2 separate regions of the Homo sapiens genome follow, and region 2 is linked to region 1. Evidence: fine-mapped expression QTL. Tissue or cell type: lung. Region 1 holds a variant in brackets; the other region holds the start of a gene. All regions are shown on one strand. Distances are from middle to middle.

The links. PIP is the estimated chance that this variant, and not a neighbour inherited with it, causes the effect.
Region 2: CCT6B starts here. The variant in region 1 is fine-mapped to the expression of CCT6B in lung (TOPMed, PIP above 0.99). The same link has a PIP of 0.9 or more in atrial appendage, gastroesophageal junction, stomach, subcutaneous fat, sun-exposed skin and tibial nerve.

What each region holds. Positions count from the first base shown.
Region 1 is chr17:34,932,251-34,940,503 of GRCh38, reverse strand. CCT6B (chaperonin containing TCP1 subunit 6B) reads left to right here. Exons shown (of 14, transcript NM_006584.4): 9 at 791-887; 10 at 1,174-1,321; 11 at 8,004-8,137. Among named protein-coding and RNA genes, the nearest start is that of CCT6B, 25 kb to the left of the region's middle. The variant A/C (reference allele first, on the strand shown) is at 5,100.
Region 2 is chr17:34,956,943-34,965,195 of GRCh38, reverse strand. It overlaps CCT6B (chaperonin containing TCP1 subunit 6B), which reads left to right and starts at 3,736. Exons shown (of 14, transcript NM_006584.4): 1 at 3,736-3,939; 2 at 5,546-5,609; 3 at 6,502-6,636. The coding sequence starts at 3,803. ZNF830 (zinc finger protein 830) reads right to left here and starts at 3,656. Exons shown (of 1, transcript NM_052857.4): 1 at 1,419-3,656. The coding sequence starts at 3,629. The coding sequence ends at 2,511. RefSeq lists enhancers at 3,363-3,612, 3,693-3,772, 3,823-4,042, 4,143-4,192 and a silencer at 3,912-4,206.

The DNA.
Region 1 (8,253 bases):
AACAGAGTAAATGGAAACTATCCCATGTGTTTTCCTTTTAGCTTATGTGTAAATGTTGTTGAACAAAACAGTGGCATAAAAAAATCCAAATTTTGTTTTTAGTTTCAGTAAATAATTGAACTGTCAAAAAGCAAGGTTGTTAACCTACTGCAGAACTTTGTTGAAGTATAAGGAAAGTTTTTATCTTTTTAAAACAGATTTTAAAAACAAAACAATACAACATAATACAGCATGATCTCACTTTTATATATGGAATCTAAAAAAGTTGAACTCATAGAAGTAGATAGTAGAATGGCGGTTACCAGGGGCTGGGGCAGTGGGAGGGGAGGGGCACTGGGAATATGTGGGTCAAAGGATACAAAATTTCAGTTAGTTAGGAGGAATAAATTCAAGAGATCTATTGTCCAACATGGCAACTGTAGTTAATAACAATATATTGTTCTTTTTAAAAATCTTTTGCAAACCCACCCGAGAATGCACAATGTGTTGGATTCTTGAAAAATGCTGAGAGTAGATTTTAAGTGTTCTTATCACACAAATGGCTAAATCAAGCCTCACATAGGCAATATGTATGTTAATTAGCTCAATTTAGCCATTCCACAGTGTATACATATTTAAAAACATCATCATGTTGTACTCGATAAATATAGACAATTTTATTAGACAATTAAAAACCCAAAACAATACAATACAGTAACAATACAGTCTTCTGCATTAGATATCTTCTCTCTGAGAAATTAGTATTAATGTTCTCCATAATCAAGCTATGGTGACATATATGTAATTTCAGACTCTCTCTTGCTTGTGGTGGAATGGCCGTGAATTCTTTTGAAGATCTCACTGTAGATTGCTTGGGACATGCTGGTCTTGTGTATGAGTATACATTAGTGAGTATTTCTATGAACAGTGGTTATAAAGTGAATACTAAGCCCCCTTTTTTAAAGAAAAATACTACTTGACCTTTTATTTCATGTTTTGTGTTTTGAGATCTAATTCACAGAACAGATTTTACAGTTTATTTACCTAAATGTTTGTTAAGAGTTCAGATATAACTTAACTCCCTTAGTTATGCTTGATAAGAAAAATTCAAATGAAGATTGTATTCTAGTATAAATTGTTGATTTTATAATGACATCAAATATTAAAGTTATATATTTTTGTGCCACCCTTTAGGGTGAAGAAAAGTTCACTTTTATTGAGGAGTGTGTTAACCCTTGCTCTGTTACCTTGTTGGTTAAAGGACCAAATAAGCATACTCTCACACAAGTCAAGGATGCCATAAGAGATGGACTTCGTGCTATCAAAAATGCCATTGAAGATGGTAAGCTCTTTCTTGTGATTGATATGAACCTCATGTATATGTGTGTATATATGTATATATATATACACACACACCTATGTATGTATATATGTATATTTTTAGACAGAGTCTTCCTCTGTTGCCCAGGCTTTAGTGCAGTGGTGCGATCTCAGCCCACTGCAACCTCTGCCTCCCAGGTTCAAGTGATTCTTCTGCCTCAGCCTCCCAAGTAGCTGGGATTACAGGCACACACCACCACACTTGGCTAATTTTTTGTATTTTTAGTAGAGATGGGGTTTCGCCATGTTGGCCAGGCTGGTCTCGAACTCCTGGGCTCAAGCGATCTGCCCTTGTTGGCCTCCCAAAGAGCTGAAATTACACGTGTGAGCCACCATGCCTGGCCTTTAAGTCTTTTTAAATTTTATTTTTATTATTAATCTATTTAATCTATTTATTTCTTTTGAGACCAGGTTTTGAAACTGGCTAATTTTTGTATTTTTGGTAGAGATGAGGTTTCACCATGTTGCCAAGGTTGGTCCTGAACTCCTGGGCTCAAGGGATCCACTTGTCTTGGCCTCCCAAAGTGCTAGGATTACTGGCATGAGCCACTGCGCCTGGCTGCAAACCTCACATATATATATTTTTCTCAAGACAGGGTCTTGCTCTGTCACCCAGGCTAGAGTGCAGTGGCACAATCATGGCTCACTGCAGCCTCAAACCCCTGTGCTCAAGTGATCCTCCCACCTCAGCTGGACGATAGGTGCATGCCACCACACCTGGCTAATTTTTAATTTTTTTTTGTAGAGATGAGTTCTGTCTATGTTGCCCAGGCTGGTCTTGAACTCCTGGCCTCAAGCAGTTTTCCCCCTTCAGCCTCCCAGAGTGCTGGGATTTGTAGGCACGAGCCACCACATTCAGCCCATGTTGAGCATCTTTTAATGTGTTTATTTGCCCTTTGTATATCTGGTGAATTTTCTGTTTAAATCTTTTGCCCTTTTAAATAATTGGATTGTTGGCCATGCACAGTGGCTCTCACCTGTAATTCCAGCACTTTGGGAGGCCAAGATGGGAGGATTGCTTGAGCCCAGGAGTTGGAAACCAGCCTGGGCAACATAGCAAGACCATGCCTCTACACACACACACACAAATAGCCAGGCGTGGTGGCCTGTACCTGTAGTTCCAGCTACTTAGGAGGCTGAGGCAGGAATATCACTTGAGTCCCAAGAGTCTGAGGTTACAGTGAGCTATGATCACACCACTGCACTCCAGCCTGGGCGTCAGAGTGAGACCCTGTTTCCAGAAAAAAAAAAAAGAGAAGAAAAGAAAAGAAAAAAATTTGTGTTAGTATACTATTGTTGAGTTTGAGAGTTCTTTGTATATAATTTGGGTACAAGTGCTTTTTCAGATATATAATTGGCAAATTTTTCTCCTCTGTGGCTTATTTTATTATTAACAGTGCCTTTCAAAGAGAAGTTCTTAATTTTGATGAAGTCTAATTTATTATTTTTATTCTGTCATGGATTATGCTTTTGGTGTGGTATCTGAAAAATCTTTACCTAACCTAGGGTCATAAAGATTTTCCTCTAAAAGTGTTACAGTCTTATGTTTTACATTTAGGTCTGTGATTCATTTTAAGTTAAATTTTGTATATGGTGCAAGTATGGATACAAGTTCATTTTTTTCATATAAAGGTATCAGATTGTTTTAGTCTTATTTGCTGAAAAGACTTTACTTTCACCACCGAATTGCCTTTTCTCGTGTATAAAAAATCAGTTTTTCATATTTGTGTGGTTCTATTTCTGTGCTCTTTTTTCTGTCCTACTGATGCATTTGTCTATTTTAATGTTAATATCATACTGTCCTGACGACTGTAGCTTTATAATAAATCTTGAAATCAGTATTGTTAACTCTCATTTTTTTTTTAAGTTATTTTGGTCATTCTAAGTCTTTGGCATTTCCATATGACTTCCATATGAATTTTAGAATCAGCTTGTCAATTTCTACCAAAAAGACTGCTGCTGGGATTTTGATCAGAACTTTTTTTTTTAGAAAGGATCTTACTCTGTCACTCAGGCTGGAGTGCAGTGGTGTGATCATGGCTCACTGCAGACTTGACCTGCTGAGCTCAAGTGACTCTCCCACCTTAGCTTCCCAAGTAGCTGGAACCACAAGCATGCACTACCATGCCTGGTTAATTTTTTTTTATTTTCTGTAGAGACAACGTCTCATTATGTTGTTACCCAGGCTGGTCTCAAACTCCTGGGCTCAAGCGATCCTCCCGCCTTGGCCTCCCAAAGTGCGTGGATTACAGGTGTGAGCCATTACACCCTGCTTGATTGGAATTTTATTAAATCTGTAGACCAATTTGGAGATAGTTGATATTTTAATAATGAGCCTTCTAACTCATGAATATCATCTTATCTATTTGAGTCTTCTTGAATTTATCTCAGCAATATTTCATAGATCTTAGTATATGAGCCTCACATACTTTTTTCCATATTTATCTCTATATATTTTATGTATTTTGTTGCTATTGTATATGCTATTTTTAAAATTTCCATTTCTGATTGTTAGTTGCTAATATATAGAAATATATTTTATTTTTGTACATTGATCTTGAATTCTGCAACCTTGCTAAATCACAATTAGCTTTCTTATAGGCTTCATTGAATTATCTATATAAGTGATTACATTGTCTGCTATACAGTTATACTTTTTGCTCTCCAATATGGATATTTTAAAATTTTCTCCCTTATTTCATGGGCCAGAACCTCCAGTATAATGTTGACTAGAAATAATGAGAATGGACATCCTTTCCTCATCGCTGATCTTAGGGGGAAAGCATTCAATCTTTCTCCATTATGTATGATGTTAGCTATAGGTTTTTATCAGGTTGAGGAAGTTCTCCCTTCTGCACCTAGTTTGCTGACAGTTTTTAATCAAGAATAAATGCCAGGCTGGTCGTGGTGGCTCACACCTGTAATTCCAGCATTTTGGGAGGCTGACGTGCATGGGTCACCTGAGGTCAGGAGTTCAAGACCAGCTTGGCCAACATGGTGAAACTGTCTCTACTAAAAATAAAAAAATTAGCTGGGCATGGTGGCAGGCACCTGCAATCTCAGCTTCTCGTGAGGCTGAGGCAGGAGAATTGCTTGAACCTGGGAGGTGGAGGTTGTAGTGAGCCGAGATCGTGCCACTGGACTTTAGCCTGGGCGACAAGAGTAAAACTTCTTGTTGTTGTTGTTTTTTGTCAAAACACACACACACACACACACACACGAGAATAAATGCCAAATGCTTCTTGTGCATCTATTGAGATGATCATATGATTTTTTTTTTTTTCTTTTGAGATGAAGTCTCACTTCGTTGCCCAGGCTGGAGTGCCATGGCGCAATCCTGGCTCACTGCAACCTCTGCTTCCCAGGTTCAAGCGAATCTCCTACATCAGCCTCCTGAGTAGGTGGGATTACAGGCATGCACCACCATGCCAGGGTAATTTTGGTATGTTTCAGTAGAGATGGAGTTTCACCATGTTGGCCTGGCTGGTCTCGAACTCCTGACCTCAGGTGATCTGCTTGCCTTGGCCTCCCAAAGGTCTGGGATTACAAGCCTGAGCCACTGCACCCAGCCCTCGTTTAGTTTTCTCGTACAGTAAATTACATTGATTGATTCAAATGTCAAACCTTACATTCTTGGGATAAACCATACTTAGTTATAATGCATTTTACTTTTTAAAAAATTAATGGATTACATTTTTTTAAAATTATTTTTTAAATTGTGATAAATATACATAACATAA[A/C]ATTTACAGTTTAACAATTTTTAAGTGTACAGTTCAGTGTTAGTAAGTGCATTCACAATGTTGTCTAACCATTATCACCACCCATCTCCAGAACTTTTTTTCCTTGCAAAACTGAAACTCTGAACCCATTAAACAATATCTCTCCATTCCCTACCCACCTCCCCAGCCCTGGGTAACCACCATTCTACTTTCTGTCTCTATGAGTTTACTCTATGTATCTCATATAATTGGAATCATACAGTTTTTGTCCTTTGTCTGGCTTATTTCACTTTGCATAGTGTCATCAAGGCTCATTCATGTTGTAGCATGTGCCAGAATTTCCTTCCTTTTTACCATTGAATAATATTCTATTGTATGTATATACCACATTTTATTTGTCTATTATTGGAAACGTGTTGCATTTACCTTTTGGCTATTGTGAATAATGGTACTATGTGTATTCTCCTTTTTATGTATTATTTGATTTAATTGGCTAAAATTTTGTTAAGAATTTTTACATATGTATTCATAAGGGGTATTGGTCTGTGTATATTTTTTCTTGTAATGCTTTTATCTTTTTTGGTGTTAGAACAATGCTGTACTCATAGAGTGAATTGGAAAGTTTTTCTTCTTGTTCAAATTTCTGAAAGTGTAAAGTTGTTGTGGAGAATTGGTATTATTTGTATTATTTCTTTCTTAAATGTTGGTAGACTGTCAATAAAGCCATCTGAGCCTGGAGTTTTCTTTGTGGGAAAGCTTTTAATGACACATTCAATTTTTTTAATAGACGTAGGGCTATAAAGGTTTTGTTTTTTTTGAGTGAGCTTTAGTGGTTTGTAGTCTTTCAAGAATTTGTCCACTTCATCTAAGTTAGGATCATCAACTACTATCTATGAGCTAAATCTGATTTGCTGCCTGTTTTGGTAAATAAAGTTTTGTTGGAATGTGGCCATACTCATTTGTCTATATATTGTCTGTGGCTATTTTTGTGTTACAGTGGCAGAGTTGAATAGTTGGAAAAGAAATGGTATGGCCTGAAAAATATTAACTGGCCTTTTGCAGAAAGTTTACTAACTTCTGATCAACAGTTTCAACTTTATTGTCATAAAGTCGATCATAATATTCATTTGTTATTCTTTTTAATATCTGTAGAATCTGTAGTGATATAAATTTTCTCATTTCTGACATTTGTCATTTGACTAATTTCCACTTTCATCCTAATTATTTCCTTTCTTTTGCTTATATTAGGTTTCATTTGTGCTTCCTTTTTTAGTTTTTTTTTTTTTTTTTTCTTTTTGAAACAGAGTCTCGATCTGTCACCTAGGCTGGAGTGCAGTGGCATGGTCACGGCTCACTGCAGCCTTGACTTCCCAGGCTCAGGCAGTCCTCCCACCTTAGCCTCCTAAGTAGCTGGGATTACAGGTGTGTGCCACCAAACCTGGCTAATTGTTGTGTTTTTTGTAGAGATGGGGTCTCACTGTGTTGCCCAGGCTGGTCTTGAATTTCCGGGCTCAAGTGATCTACCTGCCTTGGCCTCCCAAAGTGCTGGGATTATAGGAGCGAGCCACCAGACCCTGTCCTTTTCTAGTTTCTTAAGGTGGAAGCTGGGGTCATTAGTTTGAGAACTTTCTTCGTTCCTAATATAGGTGTTTCGTGATATAAATTTCTCTTTAAGTACTGCTTTAGGGATGCTAAAATTTTGATATGTTGTGTTTTCACAGAGAATGGGATCAGGGAAGTTTTCAAAGGTTCTAGTAATCTCTTTCTTAAGCTGGGTGGTAGGTACATGGATACATTTGTTTATTTGTGCATTTATTCTTTATATCATACATATAAATATTCTTTTGAGTATATTCTGTATTTAACAAGGAACTTTTAAAAAATGTGAATGGGAGGTAATGATGTAATCATCTGGTGGGTAAACAACTCTTTGAGCGGTTATGTTGTGAAGTGAAGCAGTGAAAGGGGGTAGTAATTTTAAAATGATGTGAGATAAAAGGGGAGATTGTTTTCGTATTGTTTTGTTTTAAAGCAAGTTTTCTGATTTAAATAAGAGTCATAAACTTTATGAAACCATACAAGTAGCAGATATAAAAGTGATATCCTGATGTGAAATTTGATGTGTTTAACCAAAACTCTTGCTTTAGAATAATACCACTTAAATTTTTTCTTAGATAGCAGTTTGAGTTCTGCTGCAGTACAAAAAACAAATACTTCATTGAGTTCCAAGAATTCCCTATCAAAAACTAGACAAATGATCTTGGTCTAAAGAATTTTCATGTCAGATATTGTAATCAGTTACCTGTCAATATAAATTATAAATACCTCTTAAAAGTAGTCATAAGGCCGGGTGTGGTGGCTCACACCTGTAATCCCAGCATTTTGGGAGACGGAGGTGGGTGGATCACTTGAAGTCAGGAGTTCAAGACCAGCCTGGCCAACGTGGTGAAACCCCATCTCTATTAAAAATACAAAAATTAGCTGGGTGTGGTGGTGCACGCCTGTAATTCCAGCTACTTAGAAGGCTGAGGTAGGAGGATCACTTGAACCTGGAAGGCAGAGGTTGGAGTGAGTCAAGATCATGCCACTACAGTACAGCCTGGGTGATGGAGTAAAACTCCATCTCAGAAAAAAAAAGTAGTTATAAAAGAGTAAGATGAAGGTAAAAATAAATTATTCTTGTTTACCAGAGGGTAAGGAGCAAAATAAGCTGTTTGCAGCCAGTTATCTGTACTATGCCTATTTATTTAATGACATATAACTTCAGGATGTTTCATAAGATAACTGAGTAATTACTAAGCTGTGCAATTTATTTGGTTTCTGTAGATAATAGAACATACTTAAATAGTGAATTGCTTTTCTGTCTCTCTCTCTCTTTTGGTCTTTATGGCATGTCTTGCCAATCATATTTTTTCTCTCCAATAGGTTGTATGGTTCCTGGAGCTGGTGCAATTGAAGTGGCAATGGCTGAAGCTCTTGTTACATATAAGAACAGTATAAAAGGAAGAGCTCGTCTTGGAGTCCAAGCTTTTGCTGATGCCTTACTCATTATTCCCAAGGTACAACTACCCTTTCGGCCAAATAACAACTGCTTAGACATAAAGGTGTTTAATTACAAATTGCCCATATTATCTGATAGTTAATGGAGTAGACAGGTATTTATGTGCATTTCCTT
Region 2 (8,253 bases), 25 kb before region 1:
GTAAAATTTATCTATGGCTTGCATTATATTTTATTTTTTTACTTTTTGAGACAGGGTCACACTGTCACCCATGAGGGAGTGCAGTGGCACAATCACAGCTCACTGCAACCGCCACCTTCCCTGGCACAGGTGATCCTCCCACCTCAGCATCCCAAGCAGCTGGGACTACAGGTGAATGCCACACCTGGATTATTTGTTTATATTTTTTGTAGAGATGGGGTTTTGCCATGTTGCCCAGGCTGGTCTTGAACTTCTGAGCTCAAGTGATCCACCTGCCTCGGATTCCCAAAGTGCTAGGATTACAGGCATGAGCCACCACACCCAGTCGCATTTTATCTTTAGTGGACAGTACTCCACTAGATTGTTGGCCAAGGCAGTACTGGGCCCACCATTCAAACCCATATTTGTACTTTCTTGCTAGAGTAATAGTGATGAATGAAGGGAAAATTCTGAGTAACACTGGGTTCACACATTTGAGGCAAGCAAGCCGTGTCTCATCAAATAGAAGCTGCTATCACTGATCAGCTAGCAGCTCAAGGAGGAAGACTGCCAAAGGCAGCAGGACAATTATTAATAATAATTTGTGGTACACAGCAACTGTTCAGTAAGTGTTAGATAACTCCTTTTAGGCAGTGACACTAAATACAAACAAAATCTTGAATCCCATACTTATCCCTCCTGTTTTTCTTCTTCCACTTCTAGTCACTAAAATTTAGCTATTCTGGCCGGGCGTGGTGGCTCACGCCTGTAATCCCAGCACTTTGGGAGGCCGAGGTGGGCAGATCACGAGGTCGGGAGATTGAGACCATCCTGGCTAACACGGTGAAACCCCGTCTCTACTAAAAAATACAAAAAATTAGCTTGGCGTGGTGGCGGGTGCCTGTAGTCCCGGCTACTCGCGAGGCTGAAGCAGGAGAACGGCGTGAACCTGGGAGGTGGAGCTTGCAGTGAGCCGAGTTTCCGCCACTGCACTCCAGACTGGGCGACAGACCGAGACTCCGTCTCAAAACAAACAAACAAAAAAAACAAACAACAAAAGAATTTAGCTATTCCTATGACATGCTTTCACTTCTATTCCTTTTCTCCCAATCCTCAGCTAATCAGTCTTGTCACCTTGCTTTTGAAAATATAGTTTTCAAATAGCTCCTAGCTTCCTTCTACCCTCCGTGTTCATTCCATTCTATATACTGTTAATAATGTCCCATGATACTTCTTTGCAGATGTAATTCTTTGCTCAAAACCTCCATTTTCATATGAACTTCATCAAAAATTTTCACTTAGCATTCAAGGCTTTTCAAACCTTGTCTCTTGGTACTCCTCTCCATAAAAAAAGACTTTAGGGAAACTAGATTGAGTTAATATATGTAAAGCACTTAGAACCATGCCTGGCCCATACTAAGAAATATATAGGTCTTAGCTATTATTATTATTGCTCACTTTTATTTGAATATGCTGTATGCATTTCAACTCCAGAACACTGCTAATTCCCTTTTCCTATTTGAGTACCTCAATCTCTAAAGGAAGGAGTGATTTAAACTATCAATGACCAGCAAGAGCCAATTGTTACTGCTGGAAAGACAACTTAAATATTCTTTCTACAATAGATAGGACCTGCAAACAAGGAACCCTAATTTACCACCAAATAACAAAATTTAAGGCTGGATGAAATAAATAAAAGATAATATTTTTTCCTTCATTCAAGAAACAGCAAATTTATGGAATGTGTTATTTAAAGAAAAAGAAAAAACCTGAAAAACATAAATGGGTTCTGGATTTAGGGCAGTTACTCTCTAACCCTGGCATATATTAGAATAACCTGGGTGCTTAAAAAACACAGTTGCCTGGGCCCAATCCCAGATTTATTGAAGGGGAAGGCCTCAGACACTTTAATTATTTTAATGCTTCATAGGTGACTCTCATGTGCAACCACATCTGACCATCATTGGTTTGGTCATGTTTGGCATATAGTTTTCTTATGTTTTTAAAATAAAGCACACTAAGAGAACTGATTAACCTACAATGACTTATGTGTTTATGAAGTGTTCTAAAAAACCATACAAAAACCAAAGAAACAAGAAAACAAACCTTTTCAACTTGATGTAGGGTTCAGAAGATACATACATTCCAAATACCACAGTAAGCATTCATCTGAAAGTTTGCCGGTTGGTCTTTCTATTAATTAAAAAAATTCAAAACAGAATACAGATTTAACTATGTACAATATTTACAACTTACAGATTTTACAACGAAATTATACAGTTAAGTCTGTCGTGGAAATGTTGGCATTTTGGTATATAACACTTCAGAAATTTCAAAAACAACTTTACCTCAAAAACATGTTACACAAATTTTCCAAAGTGCTGTAGCTCACTGGCTCATTTTATCTCAACAATCCAGTTTAGCAATCCAGGTACCCAAATCTTGAGGCATGAAGTAACCGCTATACTACTGAGAGACAGCACTTTTTATACAACAGCAGAGGCTGTTAGAAACCTTGGGTCTTTAAAACCCTATAACAATGCCCCTTTCACCCTCCAATCCTGAGACAACAAATCCTGTAGTTCCCCCTCATCATCGCTGTCAGCATTCTCTTCTTCCTTTTTCTGCAGTTCTTTTATGGTCAGGATTTCTTTAAGTTTATTTTTTATTTCATCCTGGCGATTCCGTAGCTTTTCCACCCGTCGGTAACACTCTATCTGCTCATCGATCTCCCCAATCTGGCGGTCCAACCGTCCCTCCTCATCCTCTTCGGCAACTATGGCTTCGGAAATAGTGTTGACCTGCCTCATGGCTTTTTGGAATTCGTCCCACTCTTTGTCCATCTGATCTTTTGGAGCATCAACCTTTCGTACTCTTGCATCTACCTCAGGGTCGTCAAAAAAACCTTCCGGTAACGCTTCCGCGGTGTTTTCTCTCCTTTCCACCACTTTTTCATGTATTTCTGCTTTCTCAATTGACCCTGAATGAGGAATTATGGGGGCCTTGGGAGGATTAGTACTAAAGAAATCGTTTGGCAGCACACTACTTGTTACCTCCCGTGAAGAGGAAACTGAGTGCTCCTTGCCCTGTGCGTCGGAGAGCGGCTTGCTGGCGTCCCCCCTTTTTCTTTCTCCATCTCCTTCCTCCTCCTCTTCCTCCTCCTCCTCATCTTCATAATCGGGGAGTAAACTGAGTCCTGAAGGCTTACTGGGAGTCGCTCTAATGAACTCCTTTCCTATTTTGTCAAAGTTGGTGGTCCACGCAGATGTGGAGGGCTGTACCTGAGGCACCAAGGTGGCCTTCGCTCTCTTGACATCTTGGTCGTCTGCGTCCGGCGCTTTCCTCTTGACGGAATGAGGCGCTGAACTGGCGGACGAACCCTGGCTGGCTTCCTTCGCGCCTTTCAGCTCGGCCACTTTCTCTCGGTGCTGCTTTCCCAGGACGTGAGTCTGCCACAGGAGCTCGCTCTTAACCGGAGTGTTACACAGGGCACAACTCAGCTGCCCCAAACGGTTGTACTTCGCGAATGGAGATTCTATCCGTTTCCGACTGGTGCTCAGACGCTGCTTCTCCTTCATTAACCGCCGCAATTCTTCCTGATTTATCACTCGCTTCCCTGCCGGAGTCCGGGCGGAGGCGGAGGACGCCATCTTGGCGACCAGACCCAAAACGATTCTGGTTTCCGTCGGGCGAGGCATGATAACGTCACTTCCTGTAAGGGCGATGATTGGCCGAGGCTCAAGAGAGCGTGGCGTCGCATTGCCGTTTTTGCTCAGAATCGCGACTAAGGCTTTTTTTTTTTCTCCCTCTGAACGGTTAGGCTATGGCTGCGATAAAGGCCGTCAACTCCAAGGCTGAGGTGGCGCGGGCCCGGGCAGCTTTGGCTGTCAATATATGCGCCGCCCGAGGGCTGCAGGATGTGCTGCGGACCAACTTGGGTCCTAAAGGCACCATGAAAATGTGAGACAGCGGTTGGAGCGGCCATTACGCGGCTAGGGGCCCGTTGGTGTCCTGTCGCCCTCTGAGGCAGGCGTCCGCGTAGCGCTGTGGATGTTCTTGCGAGCTTGATTTCCCTCATTCTCATCCCTGCTCTGGGGGTATTTCTCGCCTGGTGCAGGTGGAGGAGAAAAGCCTCCCCTAGTAGAGGGCCCCGGGAGTGAAGCTGTGGCGCTTCCCCGACCCCCGACTTGTCGTCAAGGTTCATATGCAGTTAGAAAGTCAGTTAATTTAGTGTCTCATTGGAAACAAAGCATTTAACTCCTCTGCTCCTTAAGACTGTATACCCTTGGTCCATAAATTCAACAAGTAGTTTTGTTTTTTGTATGGCAATGTATTGTAGTGGAGAGGACACAGGCTTTGGAGCCAGGAAGGCATGGGGTCAAATCCAAGTTCTACTTGAATACCCCGTGTCTATGGTTGTTCAGATCTATTCATCTTTTCAGTATATATTAAGCACCCTTTTCTATAGACAAGAGTGAGGAAAAGAGACCAGTGAGGGCAAAAGGGTATAAGAGGAGAGACACATCCTCATAGTAATGAACAAAATAATATTAATGGTAAAATAAGTCACTTAGGTACCAGTTGTTGGGACACAGAAATGATCAAGATAACGGTTTCTGTTCTTAAGGAGATGTGGTAGAGACGGATGTGGTAGAGTAGGATGTGCTAATTATATATAGATGCATATAATTATGCTGAAGAAAGGGACTGATGGCAGAAGGAAAAGCATCTTAAGTAACATGTTTGATCAGTCTTGAAAGAAGAATAAGACTTCACTAGTTGGAAGAGGGAGTAAAGGCCTGGGCAAAGTAATTTCAGGAATAAGAAAGACCAATGGTGCAAATCCAACAGAAACGAAACAAAACATGGTATATTAAGGGAACCAGAAGATTTGCTTGTGGAAAAGTAGATGAGGCAGGGAAGATATTGGGAAAGGTCAAGTATGTCATTGCTGTGTTTGGATTTTAACTTGAAAATGATGGAAAACATAAAAATCATTGGAGGACTTTTGATCAGGGAACTGACTGAATCACGTTGCCTTTTAGAAAGAAAAATGTGTGGAGGGTATATTTAAGTTTGGAGATATCCGGATGCCATCCAAAGTAGAGATGATAACAGTGGAGATGGAGAGAAGGTGGCAGATTCAAGAGATATTTAGGTAGTAGAATTGATAGAACTTGGTGATCTAATAAATGCAGGGATGAGGGAAACTAAGTTGAGTGACTGAATGAATGAAAACATTCACCAAAATTAAAACCTGCAGGAAATTTGCGAATTTGTGCTTTGTAGACTTCCAAGTATTCTTTGACCAAACCACAGTTCGTAACTCATCAAGTGCTTTTATCTTTAAACCTGTAAATAGTCCATTTGGAATGAAATCTCCATAATCTGTCCATCTGGGGAGAAATGATTCTGTGAGCTGCAAATGGTGGTAATTACCATGGCATATTCCCATGGTACAGTGGAAGTTTTCCGAGCCCAGTTCCCTCTATTAAGGATAATGGAGTGGCAAGCACTGGGAATGTCTTCCTACCACATGAAGTTAATATCATTCTTCTCTGAACAGGCTTGTTTCTGGTGCAGGTGACATCAAACTCACCAAAGATGGCAATGTGCTGCTCGATGAGATGGTGAGCTGATGCTGCTGACTTTAATAAACCTTAATAAGCCTTAATTAGAAGCATAGTAGAACTTGTGTATCTTTAAGCCAAGGCTGTGAGCTAAATACTGCAGTCTTGAGATATGCTGAAGACTGTTGAATTAGACCTCAATAAAAAAATTTTTTTGGCCGGGTGTGGTAGCTCACTCCTGTAATCCCAACACTTTGGGAGGCTGAGGTGGCCAAATTGCTTGAGCCCAGGAGTTCAAGACCAGGCTGGGCAACATGGTGAAAACCGTCTCTACAAAAAAAAAAAAAAAAAAAAATTTTGCTCAGTGTGGTGACATACGCCTATAGTCCCAGCTACTCTGGAGGCTGAGGTGAGAGGATCACTTGAGCCCAGGAGGCCAAGGCTGCAGTGAATGAGATTGTGCCATTGCACTCCAGCCTGAGTGGCAGAGTGAAACCCTGTCTCAAAAAAAAAAAAAAAAAAAGTTTTTTTTTTTGGCTGTTTCCAAGTCTTTGTATACTTATACATACTTTGTATACTTAGGCATACTTATAAATCAATAATATCTTTTAAGGGCACTGCCTTATGTTCTTTGTAATTATGGAAAAATAAAAATATCCTTTGCAAGTTTAATACATGTATTCATTTTGAGATTGAATGATTTAATCTTATTTTAGAAATGTCATTGCATTCTGAAGCAAAGACTTTTATGAAATGTTCAGGCCTCATTACCTGTCACTTTTAAAATTTTGGACTTGACATTTAGGTATTGATAATACAAAACTTGTAAACTTGTAGAATGAAGCTTATTTCATTTTTTAATTTTGCTACTGACCCCTAGGTTATCTTGCTTTTGGTGACCTACTTCCTTATCTCATCCTGTCTTTTTAAATCTGTTGCTTGCTTTTTCCAGCAAATTCAACATCCAACAGCTTCCTTGATAGCAAAAGTAGCAACAGCTCAGGATGACGTCACAGGAGATGGTACTACTTCAAATGTTCTAATTATTGGAGAGTTATTAAAACAAGCTGACCTGTACATTTCTGAGGTATTAGAATTTCACAGTTTATATGTTATTTTGAATGGCAAATTATTTTTTTAACTAGTAAAATGGTTGAGTTTTAGACAGTTAATTTTGTTTTAATTAATTAATTAATTAATTTTGAGATGGAGTCTCACTGTGTCGCCCAGGCTGGAGTGCAGTGGCAGAATCTTGGCTCACTGCAACCTCCGCCTCCCAGGTTCAATCAATTCTCCTGCTTCAGCTTCCCGAGTAGCTGGGATTACAGGCATGCGCCATCATGCCTGGCTAATGTTTGTATTTTTTTTAGAGACAGGGTTTCACCATCATGGCCAGCCTGGTCTTGAGCTCCTGACCTCAGGTGATCCACCTGCCTGGGCCTCCCAGAGTGCTGGGATTACAGGCATGAGCCACCGTGCCTGGTCTAGACAGTTAATTTTAATTAAGATATTCTTGGACAATTATAAATGGAAATAATAATGAACTTTGTTGGCCAAAATAATGCCTTTCGTTGGAATTATATACCTCTTTTAAAAATGAAATATTTAACGGACCTAAAAAAGTAAAAAATTACCCATGTATCCATGGGTAATTAAGAAAGAAAACACCATAGATAAAGTTGAAACCAAATTATGCACCTTTATAAAACCACTGGAGAAAAATTATTGAAGGTTTTACTTATTGTGAATTTACCTTCCTTTCTAGTTTCATTTTCTTTATAAATCATCTACTTCAGCCAGACTCCTCCGTTCACTGGCCTCTGAAAACATCATGTACATTTTTACCTTTCTCTAATTAAGTATCTCTTTTCTCCATATCTGAATGTTTTCTCTCTTTCAGGGACCATTTCAGCAAAGAGTAACCTAGTCAAAATGATTCTCTGTGTTTCGTTTAGTATTGGGAATTTTCTATTAATTCAGTACTTGCAACTTAGGATGCTTTTGGCTGTAAACAACTTGACTAAAACTCACTTGAACAATAAGGAAATGATTATCTCCCATAATAGAAAATTGAGAGATAAGGGAGACTGTCAGGTTGTGTGATAACAAAATTCAGTCATCAAGTACACAGGTTCTTTGTCTCTTACCTCTTCCACTCACAGTGCTGTTTCATCCTAAGAGTATTTCCATCTTGAAAGTAAGAGGCCAGGTGCGGTGGCTCACACCTGTAATCCCAGCACTTTGGGAGGCCGAGGCAGGTGGATCACCTGAGGTCGGGAGTTCGAGACCAGCCTGACCAACGTGGAGAAACCCTGTCTCTGCTAAAAATACAAAATTAGCCAGGCGTGTTGGTGCACGCCTGTGATCCCAGCTACTCAGGAGGCTGAGGCAGGAGAATTGCTTGAACCCAGGAGGTGGAGATTGCAGTGAGCCAAGATTGTGCCATCATACTCTAGCCTGGGCAACAAGAGTGAAACTCCATCTCAAAAAAAAAAAAAAAAAATGGAAAGAAAAAGGAAAGAAAAAGAAAGTAAGACTGGCTGGGCACAGTGGCTCATGCTTGTAATCCCAGCACTTTGGGAGGCTGAGGCAGGAGGATCACTTGAGCCCAGGAATTTGAGACCAGCCTGGGCAACATAGTGAGACCCTGTCTTTAGAAATAATAAAAAAAAATTAGGCTTGGTGGCATGCTGCATGTGGTCCT